Regions from separate parts of the Homo sapiens genome. Here region 2 is linked to region 1. Evidence: fine-mapped expression QTL. Tissue or cell type: whole blood. Region 1 holds a variant in brackets; the other region holds the start of a gene. All regions are shown on one strand. Distances are between the middles of the regions.

Region 1 (8,104 bases):
TTTATTGGACTTCTACTTTCATGTGTGTCCAAACAGGCTCAAGCTCTGCAGTGATAAGACTGACAGTGAATACTTCAATGATGTCTTTAAGAAAAACAATAATAAAACAGGGGAAAAAAGAAAGAACAAAACCATCTAGAAAGTGTCAACATTTTACTGTCTGCAGGGTTCGTCACAACAGTGCCAAATGACAAACTTACCACATTTAGTTGGATGAATTTTGCCCTGCAGAAGGATATCACCTTTTTTTTTTATAGGCAAACAGTTTATTTATTCATCCTCCTTCTCTTCCTCCCCATCTTCTTCATCTTCTTCTTCCATCTTTTCCCAGGCAACTTTAGCAGGACCTTTTGTGCCGTCCAACTTTCCTTTCGACTTATAGTCAGCAACATCCTTCTCATACTTCTTCAGCTTTGCCACCTTAGTGACATAAGGCTGCTTTTCACTGTCATTTAAGTTATTCCACATCTCACCCAGCTTTTTTGCCACGTCTCCAATAGAGATGCCAGGGTTTGTGGATTTGATCTTGGGGCAGAATTCTGAACAGAACAGGAAGAATCCAGACAGTGGCCTTTTGGGGGCATTAGGATCGTTCTTGCCTCCCTTAGCTGGTCCATAATCCTTCATTTCTCTATCACAGTGCACTTTATCCGCCTTTGCCATTTAATCGAATTTAGACTCTCTCTCTCTTTTTTTTTTTCTGAGATGGAGTTTTGCTCTTATTGCCCAGGCTGGAGTGCAGTGGCACGATCTCAGCTCACCGCAACCTCTGCCTCCTGGGTTCAAGCCATTCTCCTGCCTCAGCCTCCCCAGTAGCTGGGATTACAGGCGCCCACCAACACGCCCGGCTAGTTTTTTGTATTTTTAGTAGAGACGAGGTTTCACCATGTTGGCCAGGCTGGTCTCAAACTCCTTACCTCAGGTGATCCACCCAACTCACCCTCCCAAAGTGCTGAGATTACAGGCGTAAGCCGCCGTGCCCAGCCTAGACTTCTCTTTCCCAGACATTGTCTTCCACCTCTCAGAGCACTTTTTGGAAAATTCTGCAAAATTGACAGGGACCTCTGGATTTTTCTTATGCTCTTCTCTGCACGTCTGCACAAAGAAGGCAAAAGCAGACATCTTGCCCCTTAGTTTCCTGGGGTCACTTCTAGCCATCCTGACTGTATTGTTCACTAGTCTTGAAGGATATCACTTTTAAGTGGACACCATTCACATGACATTATAATTTGCAAATTTATTATGATAATTTACCAGTAGATGGCAGTAAAATGCCTTGTTATTTCAGAATCTGTTCGTTGTAACAATTTTCAGATATATGGAAATAAAATGCCTTGAGGAGGGGGTCACTTGTGCTTTGCATAAAGACATGCTATGGCGAGGCGCAGTGGCTCATGCCTGTAATCCCAGCACTTTCGGAGGTGGAGGTAGGTGGATTGTGTCAGCCCAGGAATTAGGGACCAGCCAGGGCAACATGGCAAAACCCCGTCTCTACAAAAAAATACAGAAATTAGCCAATCGTGGTGGTGCATCATGCCTGTAGTCCCAGCTCCATGGGAAGCTGAGATGGGAGGATCACTTGAGCCTGGGAAGCAGAGGTTGCAGTGAGCTGAGACTGCACCACTGCACTCCAGCCTGGATGACAGAGTGAGACTCTATCTCAAAAAAAAAAAAAAAAAAGCGGTGGTGGGGTGGGGGCTTACTATGGGCAAGCCATGGCTTGCTCTTCAGGAAAAAAATCATTGAAAAAATAGAAGAAATAGACTAATAATTACACAATTTTAAAAAGTGGAAGAATATCAAGTGACCATACATACACAAAAAGGTGGGGGTGGGGGAGAAAAAAAAAACTGTTTTCAAAAATATTCTGAAATTTTAAAGCTTTTTATTAGAGTATAATATAAAGACATAAAAGTACAGAAATCGTAAGTGTAAAGCCTGTTGAATTTCCACAAAGCCAACACACATGTCTAACAAACACCCAAATCAAGAAATAGAACATTCAGCCCCACAGAAGCCCCTTCCAGTCATTACCCACAGCCCCCAAGGTTAAACAGTATTTTAACTTCTAACTCCATAGATTAGTCTCACCAGGAGTTAAACTTACAGATTCATCTACATTGTTGCATGTAGTTGTAGCATGTTCATTTTCATTGCTGGGTAGCATTTCATTATTTATTTTTTATTTTTTTGAGACAGAGTCTTGCTCTGTCACCCAGGTTGGAGTGCAGTGGTGGGATCACAGGTCACTGCAGCCTTGACCTCCCAGGCTCAAGTAATCCTTCTGCCTCAGCCTCCCTAGTAGCTAGGACCACAGGTGCATGCCACTACACCATGCTAATTTTTGTATTTTTTGTAGAGACGGGGTTTCACCATGTTGCCCAGGTTGGTCTCAAACTCCTGGGCTCAAGTGATCCTCCCACCTCTGCCACCCAGAGTGCTGGGATTACAGATGTGAGCCACCACACCTGGCCAGCATTTTATTGTTTGAATACACCATAATTTATCCATTCTACTGTTAATGAGCATGTGGGTTTCCACTTAGGAGCTATTTTATTTTATTTTATTTATTTTTTTTAGAGATGGACTCTTGCTCTGTCACCCAGGCTGGGGTGCAGTAGTGCGATCTCGGCTCACTGCAACCTTCGCATCCCTGGTTCAAGCAATTCTCTGGCCTCAGCCTCCCGAGTAGCTAGGACTACAGGTGCACGCCACCATGCCCGGTTAATTTCTTTTGTATTTTTTAGTAGAGACAGGGTTTCACTGTGTTGCCCAGGCTGGTCTCGAACTCCTGAGCTCAGGCAATCTGCCTGCCTCGGCCTCCCAAAGTGCTAGGATTACAGGCGTGAGCCATCACGCCTGGCCAGAGCTTTTTTTGTTTTGTTTTGAGACAGAGTTTCGCTCTTGTTGCCCAGGCTGGAATGCAATGGCGTGATCTCGGCTCACTGCAACCTCTACCTCCTGGGTTCAAACGATTCTCCTACCTCAGCCTCCTGAGTAGCTGGGATCACAGGTGCCCACCACCATGCCCGGCTAATTTTTTATATTTTTAGTAGAGACAGGGTTTCTCCATGGTGGTCAGGCTGGTCTCAAACTCCCGACCTCAAGTGATCCGCCCACCTCGGCCTCCCAAAGTGCTGGGATTACAGGCGTGAGCCACCGCACCCGGGCCGGAGTTATTTTAAATTTTACTACTATGAACATTCTTGTGCATGTCTTTGGATGAACATGTGTACAATTTTTTGCTGGATAAAAACCTAGGACTAGGATTGCTGGGTCATAGAGTTTGCATTCAGCTCTTAGCTCATATTACCAAATCCTATGTCTTTTTAAAACAGTTTTATTGACAGGCTGGGCACGGTGGCTCATGCTTGTAATTCAAGCACCTTTGGAGGCTGAGGCGGGTGGATCACCTGAGGTCAGGAGTTTGAGACCAGCCTGGCCAACATGGTGAAACCCCATCTCTACTAAAAATACAAAAATTAGCTGGGCGTGGTGGCGGGTGCCTATAATCCCAGCTACTCGGGAGATTGAGGGAGGAGAATTGCTTGAACCTGGGAGGTGGAGGTAACAGTTAGCAGAGATCCCGCCATTCCATTCCAGCCTGGGTGACAAGAGTGAAACTCTGTCTCAAAACAAAAATCAAAAACAAACAAAAAACAATTTTCCAAAACAAAACAAAAAAACAGCTTTTGAGATATAATTGACATACTATACAATTTACTCATTTAAAGTGTATTATTCAGCCGGGTGTGTGGCTCAAGCCTATGATCCCAGCACTTTGGGAGGTTGAATCGGTTCGCTCACATATGTCCAGGAGTTCGAGACCAGGCTGGGTGACATGGTGAAACCCCATTTCTACCCAAAATACAAAAATTAGCCGGACGTGGTGCTTTATACCTGCAGTCCCAGCTATTGTGGAGACTGAGGTGGGAGGATCACTTGAGCCCAGGAGGCGGAGTTTGCAGTGAGCCAAGACTGCACTATTGTGCTCCAGCCTGGGCTACAAAGCCAGACCCTGTCTCAAAAAAAAAAAAAAAAAAAGTATAATTCTATGGTATTTAGTGTAGTCACAGATATGTGCAACCATCACCACAGTCAATTTTAGAACATTTTCATTGCCTCAGAAGAAACTCTATAATCTTTAGGTATCTCCCTCTCCCCAACCCCCCCATTCCCTCAGCCCTAAGGAATCACTAATTGACTTTGTCTCTGTCAGTTTGCCTATTATGGATACTTCATATAAATGGAATCATACAATATGTGACCTTTTGGCTTCTCTCACTTGGCACAATGTTTTCAAGGTTCATCCATATTGTAGCATGTATCAGTATCAGTACTTTATTCTTTTTCATAGCTGAATAACATAATATGTATTATTATGTGAATATACCACATTTTGTTATCTTTTTGTCTGTTGATGGACATTTGGGTTGTTTTTTACCTTTTGGTATTGTGAATAGTGATGCTATGAACATTCATGTACAAGTTTTTCTTTGAACACCTGTTTTCAGTGATTTGGGGTTTATGCCTGGGAATGGTATTGCTGGGTCGTATGGTAATTTGGTTTGTCTTATTAAAGAAATGCCAAACTGTTTTCCATAGCTGCTGTACCATTTTACATTTCCACCAACAACGTATGAAGATTCCACTTTTTCACATCCTGAGCAACATTTGTTATTTCCTTTTTAAAAAATTATTGTT[G/C]TGGGCGCACAGTGGCTCACACCTGTAATCCCAACACTTTGGGAGGCTGAGGCAGGAGGATTGCTTGAGGCCAGGAGTTTGAGACCAACCTGAGCCACATAGTAAGACTCCATCTCTATTTAAATAAAAGATAAAAAATAACATTTAAGTAAATAAACAAATAAAAATAATATTTATGGCCAGTCTAATTGTTGTGAAGTGGTATCTCATGGTGATTTTGACCTGTTTTAATCTACATTTCCCTAGTGATTATGATATTCAGCATCTTATCATAGACTTATCTTTGAAGAAATGTCTGTTGAAGCCCAGGCACAGTGACTTACACCTGTAATCCCAGCACTTTGGGAGGCCAAGATGGGAGGATTGCTTGAGTCCAAGAGTTCCAGACCAGCCTAGGCTGCATGGCAAAACCCCATCTCTACAAAAAATACAAAAATTAGCTGGGTGTGGTGACATGCACCTGTAGTCCCAGCTACTCAGGGGGCTGAGGTGGGAGAATCTCTTGAGCCTGGGAGGTGGAGGTTGCAGTGAGCCGAGATGGTGCCACTGCACTCCATCCTGGGTGACAGAGTGAGACTCTGTCTCAGAAAAAAAAAAAAAGTGTCCTTTTTGTTTTGTTTTGTTTTGAGGCAGGGTTTCACTCCTGTCACCCAGGCTGGAGTACAATGGCACGATCTCAACTCAGTGCAGCCTCGATCTCCTGGGTTCAAGGGATCTTCCTGCCTCAGCCTCCCCAGTAGCTGGGACTACAGGCACGTGCCACAGCACCCAGCTAATTTTTTATATTTTTGGTATATACAGGGTTTCACCATTTTGCCCAGGCTTGTCTTGAACTCCTGGACTCAAGCGATCTGCCCACCTTGGCCTCCTAAAGTATTGGGATTACAGGCATGAGCCACTGAACCCTGCCAAGAAATGTCTATTGAAGTCCTTTGCCCATATTTTAATTGAGTTGTTTGTCTTTATGTTGTTGAAGTGTTTTTAATATATTCTGGGTACTATATAAAGTACTCAGATCAGATATAAGATTGCAAATACTTTTCACATTTTTTGGACTGTCTTTTCACTCAAGATTGTCCTTTTATGTACAAAACTTTTTAATTTCAATGACATCCAATTATCTATGTTTGCTTTTGTTGCTGTGCTTTCGGTGCCACATCTAAGAAACCATTTGCCAAATCCAAGGTATGAGGATTTACCCCTATGTTTCCTTCTAAGAGTTTTATAGTTTTAGCTCTTATATTTGTGTCTTTGATCCATTTTGAGTTACTTTTTGTATGTGGTGTGAGGCAAGGTTCAAACTTCATTTTGTGTATGTGAATATGTTAAAGAGAATATTCCTTCTTCATTGAATGATCTTGGCACCCTAGTTGAGATCAATTGGCCATAGATATATTGATTTATTTCTGGACTATCAATTATGTTCCATTGATATGTTTATCCTTATACCTACCACACTGTTTTGATTACTTTGTAGTAAGTTTTAAAATCGGGAAATGTGTGTCCTCCAACATTGTTCTTTTTCAAGATTGTTTTGGCTATTCTGAGTCCCTTGCAATTAATTCCATATGAATTTTAGGATCATCCATATTCATTTCTGCAATAAAGTGCTGCTGGAATTTCCATACAGATTGCATTGAATCTGTAGATCAATTGGGAAGTATTGTCATCTTAACAAAATTAAATCTTTCGATTCATAAACACAGAATGTCTTTACATTTATTTAGGTCTTCTTTCATTTCTTTCGACAATGTTTTATAGTTTTAATTTTTATACTTCTTTTATAAAATTTATTCCTAAGTATTTTATTCTTTCTGATGCTTCAGTAAATGGAATTGTTTTCTTTCTTTTTTCTTTTTCTTTTCTTTTTTTTTTTTTAAGGGTCTCACTCTATCACCTAGGCTGGAGTGCAGCGGCGCCATCAATCCACCTTCTGGCCTCAAGCTATTCTCCCACCTCAGCCTCCCGAGGAGCTGGGACTATAGGCACACACCACCACTGTCAGTTAATTTTTGTAGAGACAAAGTTTCACCATGTTGCCCAGGCTGGTCTCCAACTCCTAGGCTCCAGCAATCCTCCAGCCTCAGTCTCCCAAAGTGTTGCAATTCCAGGTGGGAGCCACTGTGCCTGGCCAGAATTGTTTTCTTAATTTCATTTACAGGTTGTTTATTGCAAGTGTACAGAAACTTTATACTGATCTTGTATTAGCAATCTTGCTGAACTCCTTTGTTAGCTGTCATTGTTTTCATTGATTTCTTAGGATTTTTTGTATACAAGATCATGCCATCTGCAAATAAAAATAGTTTTACTTTTTACTTTCCAATCTGGAGGCCTTTTACTTCTGTATCTTGCCTAATTGCCCTGACTAGAACATCCAATACAATATTGAATAGAAGTAGCAAGAATGGGTATGCTCTAATCTTAGTGGGAAAGCATCCAATCTTTAACTATTAAGTATGATGTTAACTGAGGGTTTTTTATATTTGCCTTTTATCATGTTGAAGAAGTTCCCTTCTATTCCTGGTTTGCTGAGTGTTTTTTGTTTGTTTGTTATCATGAAGGGGTGGTAGGATTTTGTCAGATGCCTTTTCTGCATCTATTGAGATGATCATGTGTTGTTTTTTATTCTACCAAAAAAATATAATGCAATACTTGATTTTTGAAAGTAAACCAAGCTTGAATTCCTGGAATGTATCCCACTGAGGCAGTGTATACTTCTTTTTATATGTTGTTGGCTAGTATTTTGTTGAGTATGTTACATCCATGTTCATAAAAGAATATTGGTCTGTAGTTTTCTTATTAGGTCTTATTTTGTTGGATTTTAATTTCAAGGTAAAACTAGCCTCACAGAATAAACTAGAAAGCGTTTCTTCCTCTTCTATTTATTGAAAGCTTTTTTTATAGAATTGGTATTAATTTTTTTCAATGTTTTGTAGAAATCACTAGTGAGGCCGTCTGAGACCTGGGCTTTTCTTTGTAAGTAGTTTGCTTTTTAGTATATATTACTAATCTCTTTATTTGTTATGTATCTCCTCAGATTGTCTATTTCTTCTTGAGTCAGTTTTGGTATGTGTCTTTCTAGGAAATTTTATGTTTCATCTAAGTTATCTGATTTATTAACATACAGTTGTTCATAGTATTTCTTTGTGATCCTTTTTTATTTCTGTAAGATTGTAAGTACTGTCCCATCTTTAATTTCTGATTCTAGTAATTTCGAGTCTTCTTTTTTTCTTGATCAATCTGGGACAGGTTTGTCAATTTTGTTGATTTTTTCAAAGAGCCAGGATTTGGTTTTATTGATTTTCTCTATTGTTTTTCTATTCTCTATTTCACTAATCTCTGCTCCAATCTACCCAGTTTATGATATTTTGGTATGGCAGCCCAAATGAACTAAGACACT
Region 2 (8,104 bases), 840 kb before region 1:
CAGTGCTCTCCACTCCCTATTGTCTCATGCCTAACCTTCTTTCTAGCCCCTGTAGACACCTGAGGGTTTGCTGTTGTTGTTATTTGTTTTGAGAAGGGTCTCACTCTGTTGCCTAGGCTGGATGCAGTGGTGTGAGCATGTCTCACTGTAGCCTTGGCCTCCTGGGCTCAAGTGATCCTCTGGCCTCAGCCTCCCAAGTAGCTGGAAGTACAGGCACATGCTACCATGCCAGCTAATTAAAATTTTTTTTTTTGTAGAGACAGGGTCTCACTATGTTGCCCAAGCTGGTCTCAAACTCCTGGGTTCAAGCAATCCTCCTGCCTCAGCCTCCCAGAATTCTGGGATTAAAGGAATGAGCCACTGTGCCCGGCATGACATTTGAGTTTTTGATCCATGCTGATGACATGGCAATGGGAGGCTATTGAAGGTTGTTTTTTGTTTTTCTGTTTTTGAGGCGGAGTCTCTCTCTGTGTCTCAGGCTGGAGTGCAGTGGCATGATCTCGGCTCACTGCAACCTCCACCTCCCAGGTTCAAGCGATTACCCCACCTCAGCCTCCTGAGTAGCTGGGATTACAGGTGCCTGCCACCACGCCCGGTTAATTTTTATATTTTTAGTAGAGATGGGGTTTCACCATGTTGCCCAGGCCGGTCTTGAACTCCTGACCTCAAGTAATCCCCCCCACCTCGGTCTCCCAAAGTACTGGGATTACAGGCGTGAGTTACCGCGCCCAGCCCATTGAAGGGTTTTGAGCAGAGAAGGAATGATGAGAGTTGGGCAGTAAGTAATGTATTGGTTGGGGGTAACTCTGGGGCAGGTGTAGTGAAAATCTATTATTCAATCTGCCCCAGAGCATGAACTCCATCTTTTGGGAAATGCATCTTTCTCTGACCATATGGTTCCGATGGGGCTGCCATCTCCCTGTACGTCCCACTTCCTTATTCACAGTATTGGTTAGAGAATGGCACCTGGCTTAAGTTGGGCCAGTCACAGCACCTGGTTTTCCACCCATAGATGATTGGTCTAGGGACGGGGACTTACCTATGTTGGACCAATCAAAGTTTTTCCCTAAAATTTTGTCCTTCAGACCAGAAGCAGAAATCCTCAGTCTCTCTCCGGTGGAACGGGTGAGAGTTGTGAGTGGTGAGCGCTGCTGCAGCCAGGTGCCTAGCCTTGAGGAGAAAAGCTCGCATACAGAGAGAAGAGATAAAGGACTGGGAGGAGAGTCCTGGCAACATTCAAGCCTCTGCGCTCACCACTTCAGTGCATTTTCTGAGCCTGGTTCTCCAGCCTTCCCATCAGTTCTGGGAGCTCCCCATTCCTTCCTGATAAATTCCTTTGCTGCATCTGTTAGTCTGAGTTTATTTATGTTTCGTAATTTGCAACCGAGAACACTGGTGATAACCGGGGGCTTTGAGGCAATTCCAGGAGGGCTACTTCTCACCCCCGTCAGGGAGGAGCCAAGACAGGGTTTATCCTCAAATGCAGATCCCCTGAGGTCAGGAGTTAGAGCCCAGCTTGGCCAACATGATGAAACCCCGTATCCACTGAAAATACAAAAATTAGCCGGGCATGGTGGTACACGCCTGTAATCCCAGCTACTTGGGAGGCTGAGGTACAAGAATCGCTTTGAACCCAGGAGGCAGAGGTTGCAGAGAGCCGAGATCGTGCCACTGCACTCCAGCCTAGGCGACAGAGCTAGACTCCGCCTCAAAAAACACACAAACAATGAACAGACAAATAAATGACAGAACAAGAAGACAAACTAGAGAACATCTTGAGACAAGGTGTTCAGGGAAGAGTTCTTTTGAGAAGGTGATATTAAAGCGAGTTTGGGGAAGAACGTCCCAGGCCTTGCGCTCAGGGTCGTCAACTCTTTGATTTCTCTTCCTTTTGAAGCAGGGCAGGGAGGTCATCAAACAACAGAAGGACAATTATAACTGCTGGTATGGCAAAGCCAGGACTCTGAATTCAAACTCTGCTCCATTCTCAGGAATCCCGTCTGTTAAGCAGGTTCTGGGGAAGCGATGTGAGTCATGAAATCACAGGTCGGAGGAGGCATCGAGAATATGGTCAGTTCTCAACTTTCAGGGAAATCCATAGCTGAGGAATGAAGGACAACGGGCTTCTCGTGCTCTCACTAGGAAGACTGGTTCACCGGAGGCTGGAACACTGAAAGTGAGAAATCCCGACAGGAGAAATGTGTAGGAGAGAGGACTAGCACCTGGATCAAGTTATAAAACATCTCCTGCATCTTTTTCGGAGATCACCCTTAGCGCGGCCTCTCCGCCCAGTCCCAGATTAGGCAGCGAAGAGCGACCCTCACCTTGTCTAGGTGGCACGTTCCTTAAAAGCGAAAGGACCAGGAGTTTCTTCCTGCCTCGTCTCTTCCGGATCCCTCCTGCACCGCCCACAGCCTGCAGATTTGAGCGCCATCTCCAGGCCCCGCCCACCTCAAGCACCACCCCTCAGTCCTTCCTTGGGGCACGCCTCCTTCCGGCACCCGCCCAGAGTAGCCACCCCCGGGGCCCCTCCTCCCCTCCCTGCTTCCGGGCCCGCCTCCTTCAGGCCCGCTTCCATCTTCCTCCCACTCTAAGCTTCTCTTCAGCCCCGCCTCCCTCCACCCGTGGCTCCGCCCTCTGGGCGATTCTCCATTTAGCCCCGCCCACAGCATCTCCTTTCAAGCGCTGTCCTGGTTCCCGGCTCTCCATCTCCTGCACGGCCTTCCCCACTGGTCCGGCGACCCTCTTCCCAGGGCCTCATCACCATCTTAGCTCCGCCCCTACTTCGGCTCCAAACCTGTGCAAGCTGCCCTCTTCCCGCCCCAGCCCCGCCTCCCCAAGCCGCGTCTCAGTCCCTCCTCCCTTTCAGGCCCCACCCTGGCCCCGCCTTCCTCCCGTCCCCGCCGAAGCTCTGGACCTTTCCAAAGCCAGGCTGAGAGGGTGGGGAGAGCCCATGCGCCTGGGAAGCCGGGCTGTTTCTGGGCGGGGCTGCAGACTCCTCGTGCTCGTGTCACCGTGTCCTTCCCAGGAGACAGAGAAGGAGGAGAGCCCGGAACCAGGGCCGGAGCGGCGGGCGGAGCCGAGCTGCGGGGAGCCGCTCCGGGTGCCCCCACCCCCGCGCGCCTCAGTGGTGCCGGCCGAGGGCAGGGCTCGCGGTTGCGGGGCTCGCGCCGCTGTCAGTGCGGCGGGGCGCGCGAGCGGCGCCAGCTCGGGGCAGCGGAACCCAGAGAAGCTGAGGGGGCGGTAGCGGCGGCGACGGCGACGACGACGACTCCCGCGCGTGTGCCCAGCCTCTTCCCGCCGCAGCCGCCCTTTTCCTCCCTCCCTTACGTCCCCGAGTGCGGCAGTACCGCCTCCTTCCCAGCCGCGCGGCTTCCTCCAGACCTCTCGGCGCGGGTGAGTGGGGACTGCGGGCGTCTCCTTAGGGGTGCGGGGAGGGTGTGTGCTTTGTGCCTTTCCGTTCACTCACTTCTTCCGGCAGGCCGCTGCCTATTTTTAGAAACTTATTTCTGCCCTTCGGGGAGTCCCGGGAGCCCGAGTAACTCTAGGCCCCCTCCGCCGCTCCTTTCTCCCACTCGGACCCGCCGCCCCGGGTCCCCGGCCCCAGCCCTCCGCGCCCGGTCCTGCTCCCGGCGTTCCCTGTCTGCTCTCTCCGCGGGCCAAGTCTGGGCCAGTAGTTGGCTGGGTGGGCCCGCGCCCGCTCGGAAGTTGGAGTCTTTTGTGCTCGTGCCCCGCCCCGCCCGGCGAGGGGCGGAGGGAGGGGAACGGAGGCTGCTCCGGGGAGGCCGCAGGCGGGCCCGGCCGCGGCTGCTTCCGGCTCTCCTAACCCGGACTGGGTCTACGGGCTCCCGGAGGCGCGCAGAGCTTGTCCTGCCTCGGCTCCCGCCTCTTCTGGGCTCTTTGCACGCCTTGGGCTCGGAGAGAAACAACAACGGGCCCTCGAACTGGGGCCGTATCCGCGTTTCACTCAGCCTCCTTGGCGGCCGAGTCTTAGTTTGCCTCTCGGTGACATGGGGGGAAAGAAGGAAACTCGCTTTGCGGGGTGTTCGTGGATTCAGGGAGGGAACTAATATGTGAAAGAAGTGTTTAACACCGACAGGGAACATTTAATGAGACTTCACCCAGGAACTTCCCAAGCCTTATTTCATTTAATGTTCACAACGGCCTTCTGGTTTATCCTCATTTACAAAAGCAGAAATTAAGGCGCAGAGGGGTCAAGTAATTTTCTCCAAGTCACAGTAGCCACAGAAGTGCAAAGGAGTGGTGCCAGTACCTATTATTTATTAATATTTCCTGGTGTGAGCATGTATCATCTCTTAGTGCAGAGGGTATTTTTACCTAGCCTTGGGTCACACCATTTAATTAGGGGCATAACTCTGGGTTTTCCCTGACTTCTGGGCCGTTGTCCACTATACTGTGGATGAAATCCCATTCTGGGGTTACCATAGTTCTAAAGGGAAAGGTTTGGATGAATTCCTTGCTAGTGTTGCGGCAGTTAGAAGTTGATGGATGCAGACTCCAGGTCTCAGACACAACTCAAATTCCCTGGGGTTTTGGCTCAAGGAAGCTTTGAGACTGTAAACGGTGGGATCCACCCTTTAGTTTGTGTGTGGTGTGTTCCTCCTCCCAGACCTTGCAGGTTCTCTGTGTTTAGATTTATCGATCCTAGTTTGATGGGGGTTAGGGGGAGTAGCTCAAGTCATCTGCCTTCAAACAAATATTACTCCTATTTTCAGATAAGGCCCAGAGTGGTTAAAGTGAACTAAAATTAACTTTGGCAAATGTTCCAGTTTTTCAATGTGATCCGGTTGGAGGGAGTGTCTAAAAATCAGGCAAGGGAGTTTCTGGGCCAGGTCTTGAGGAGTCTCTTGATGTTCACATTAGTTCTTTGGAGTCTGGTACGTCTGTGGTGCCTGGCCAGGATTCTGGATTTACGAGTCCTATGTGGGAGCTGAAAGGGGTCTTACCATCTGGTCCAACTTTTTCATATCTGCCTTTCCCCGCTTCCCTGTTAACTGAACCTTGGAAAGGGGAAGTAAGTTGTCTGAATTCAGACTGCCTTAGTGTCAGAGTGAGAACTAAAATTTCCAGTCTTCTTCCTCCTAATCCAGTAATATTTTTATTTCTCCCATACCTTGCCACTTCTTAAAAGGGCACGAAACCACTTATTCAGGTCTTAAGGTCAGGAATCCTGAGTAATTGGAAATCCCAAGGAAGTTTTATAGTCCCCACCCCTTTCTGTGCCTTATGGTTAGTATTAAGAGGAGGCCAGGTTTAAGCACAGGTGTACTAGTTCTCGTAAGTCACCACTTCGGTTTTATGTGTTTATGGCTTATATACTCTTCCATAACCATTATCTGATTTAATTTCTAATCCATTTCTGTGAGGTAGTTTGCAGAGCTTGGTTTATGTCTCTTTTTTTACTGTGAGGGAATGGAGACACAGCATAGCACTTGCCTTAGATGACAGAATGAGTAAGTAGTGAGGACAAGACACCTCTCTGGAGCAGAGGATTTGATTTGACATCATAAACTGAGCCACTCATTGTGGCTCTCTGAGCCTCAGTTTCCTTATCTGTAAACTCATAGGGTTGTTGTGGGGATTGTTAAGAAAATGGCTATGAAAGTGCTTTATAGTGGTAGTAATAATAGCTAAATTTATTAAGTACTTAACGTGTACCACCAGTCAATGGACTGAGGACTTTATGGACTATATTACTAATTCTTAGAGCAACCTATGAATTAAGTACTATTATTATCCCTGTTTTATAGAAGAAACAGGCTTAGAGAGGTTACATTACCTGCCTCAGGGTCATGTAACTGGTAAGTGGCCATGGCAGTATTCAGACTGCAGACAGTATAACCTTAAAGCTGGCATGCTTTTTTTAAAAAAAAAATTGTGGTAAAATATATATAACATAAAATTTACCATTTAACCGTTTCAAAGTGTACATTTATGTGACATTAAATACATTCGCATGGTTATGCAACCATCATCACTGTCCATTATCTTCCCCAACTGAAATTCTGTACCCATTAAACTAACTCCCCCTTCCCTCCTCCCTCCAGCCCCTGAAAACTATCGTTCTACTTTCTGTGAATTTGACTACTCTAGGAACCTCATGTAAGTGGAATCATGCAATATTTGTCCTTTTGTGCCTGCAAAGCTGGCACACTTAGTGTCTTCTTTAGTCTCAGAGTGCATTGTAAATGCAAAATTATTAGTCCTCACCTGCAGCAGAGATGTGGCATGCAGCTCCAGGGCAGGAACCCAGGCCTCTCTGAGTAAGACCTACTTTTCTCCCCCTTAGGTTGATGTTCTGTATCACTGAAGCCTGTTTTGAATCTCTGCTGGCCCCCCAGTATCTGCAGAAGAGACCTTATACCCTGTTTTTTTTGGAGACGGAGTCTCACTCCGTCGCCCAGGCTGGATTGCGGTGGCACGATCTTGGCTCCCTGCAACCTCAACCTCCTGGGTTCAAGGGATCTCTTGCCTCAGCCTCCCGAGTAGCTGGGACTACAGGCATGCACCATCACGCCTGGGTAATTTTTGTATTTTTAGTACAGATAGGGTTTCACCACGTTGGCCAGGCTGGCTTCGAACTCCTGAACCTCAGGTGATCCTCCTGTCTTGGCCTTCCAAAGTGCTGGGATTACAGGCATGAGCCACCACGCCAGGCTATTACACCCTTAAAATAGAACCGAGATAACTCCCCACCCTCACCTTGTTTGCACCTGCCCTTCTGACAGTCCAGGGTTTGGGGATATTGGGCTGCAGTTATCAGGAATAACAGTGCAGTGACAGCAGCTTGGATCAAAACTACTCAGAATGATTAAGTAGATCACCTTTATGAAATGTTCCCTCTTTCTTCCCCCTTTTTCCATAGAGGCACACAGGAGGGATTAGCTTTTGGGTTCTTGGAGGATGTTTATGGATACTCACTGCTTGCAGTTGGTTAAGATGGAGTTAGATGCTGCATATAGCCTTTCAAAATGCCCTTTGACCGTTTTCTGTGTTGGTCCATTTAGGGGAGTGGGCTCTTCATGTTTATGAAGATGGTTGGAATATTGTCCTGATAACAACTGGGGGTTGGGAGAGGCAGTGTCTCAGAGATGGTTAATAGGGTAACAAACACATGATCATGTGTCTGGTCATGTCACACTCTCCTTAAAAATCTGATGGCCCCAACATTGCCTGCATATTAAAGTTCAAACAAATATGACCCATGAGGTCAGTGTGTTGAATTTATTGAATAGAATCTTGTAGTTGAGGGACCTTACAGTCATTTAGACCAGCCACCTGGCTGACATTTGAGTTGGTTACTTGTTGAGATTGTCTTTCTTTGGATACCTCATTTTTGGAAAGTTTTTCATTCACTGAAGAATTAATGAGCCTCTGTTAGACCTGGTGCTACGCTTAGGGATTTGGGTTTGTATAGCGTAGTGGGAAAGATAGGCAAGGAAACAGGCAGTGTGAGAAGTGTTGTCACAGGGACAGACACCAGGAGAGCACAGAAAAATGATGCCTAACCCAGCATTGGAAGGTCAGGGAAGGCTTTTTAGGAGGAGAAGTTGGTTAAGCCTAGCCCTCAAGAGAACAGACATAAGCCAGGAAAAGAAGAGATCTGGGGAGTCAGGGAAGAGGCAGAGATAAGACTGTTCTAGGTAGAAGGAACAGTAAGTTCAGAAATGGTGATAATAGGTTAAGACCATCCCGAAAGTACGTACTGTTACTATTCCCATTCTGTAGTTGAAGGAAACGGGCCAAGAGAGCTAAACAAATTTCTCAGGATTCTTGGGTGGAGCATAATGCTTGAGGTGGGTGGATATGGCCAGACAGGAGACTTTCAAGGTAGGCAGAGCAGAGGCCAAGTCAGGAAAGGGCCTTCTTGCCTGTGTTGAGGAGTTTGGACTTCATCCGGAGGTGAGGGGGCCATGATTCAATGTGCATTTTGGAAGGATATCTCTGGCTGCCTGTTCAGGAGCGGACTGGAGAGCTAGAACACTGTGGGCAGAGAGACCAGTTAGGAGGTTGGCAAGAGGTGATGGTGTTTCAAATGAAGGTTGTGGGAGAGCGTGTGCAAGAGTGTGTGCAGAAAAAAGAT

Evidence for each region. PIP is the estimated chance that this variant, and not a neighbour inherited with it, causes the effect.
Region 2: it holds the start of RALY, and the variant in region 1 is fine-mapped to the expression of RALY in whole blood (INTERVAL, PIP 0.93).

What each region holds. Positions count from the first base shown.
Region 1 is chr20:34,833,305-34,841,408 of GRCh38, forward strand. It overlaps the pseudogene HMGB3P1. Among named protein-coding and RNA genes, the nearest start is that of NCOA6, 12 kb to the left of the region's middle. The variant G/C (reference allele first, on the strand shown) is at 4,705.
Region 2 is chr20:33,990,736-33,998,839 of GRCh38, forward strand. It overlaps RALY (RALY heterogeneous nuclear ribonucleoprotein), which reads left to right and starts at 3,176. Exons shown (of 10, transcript NM_016732.3): 1 at 3,176-3,396. RALY-AS1 (RALY antisense RNA 1) reads right to left here and starts at 3,632. Exons shown (of 2, transcript NR_109886.1): 1 at 3,470-3,632; 2 at 1,753-2,170. RefSeq lists enhancers at 2,077-2,156, 2,093-2,619, 8,056-8,104 and silencers at 2,397-2,646, 2,817-2,926, 3,107-3,236, 3,297-3,346, 3,567-3,896.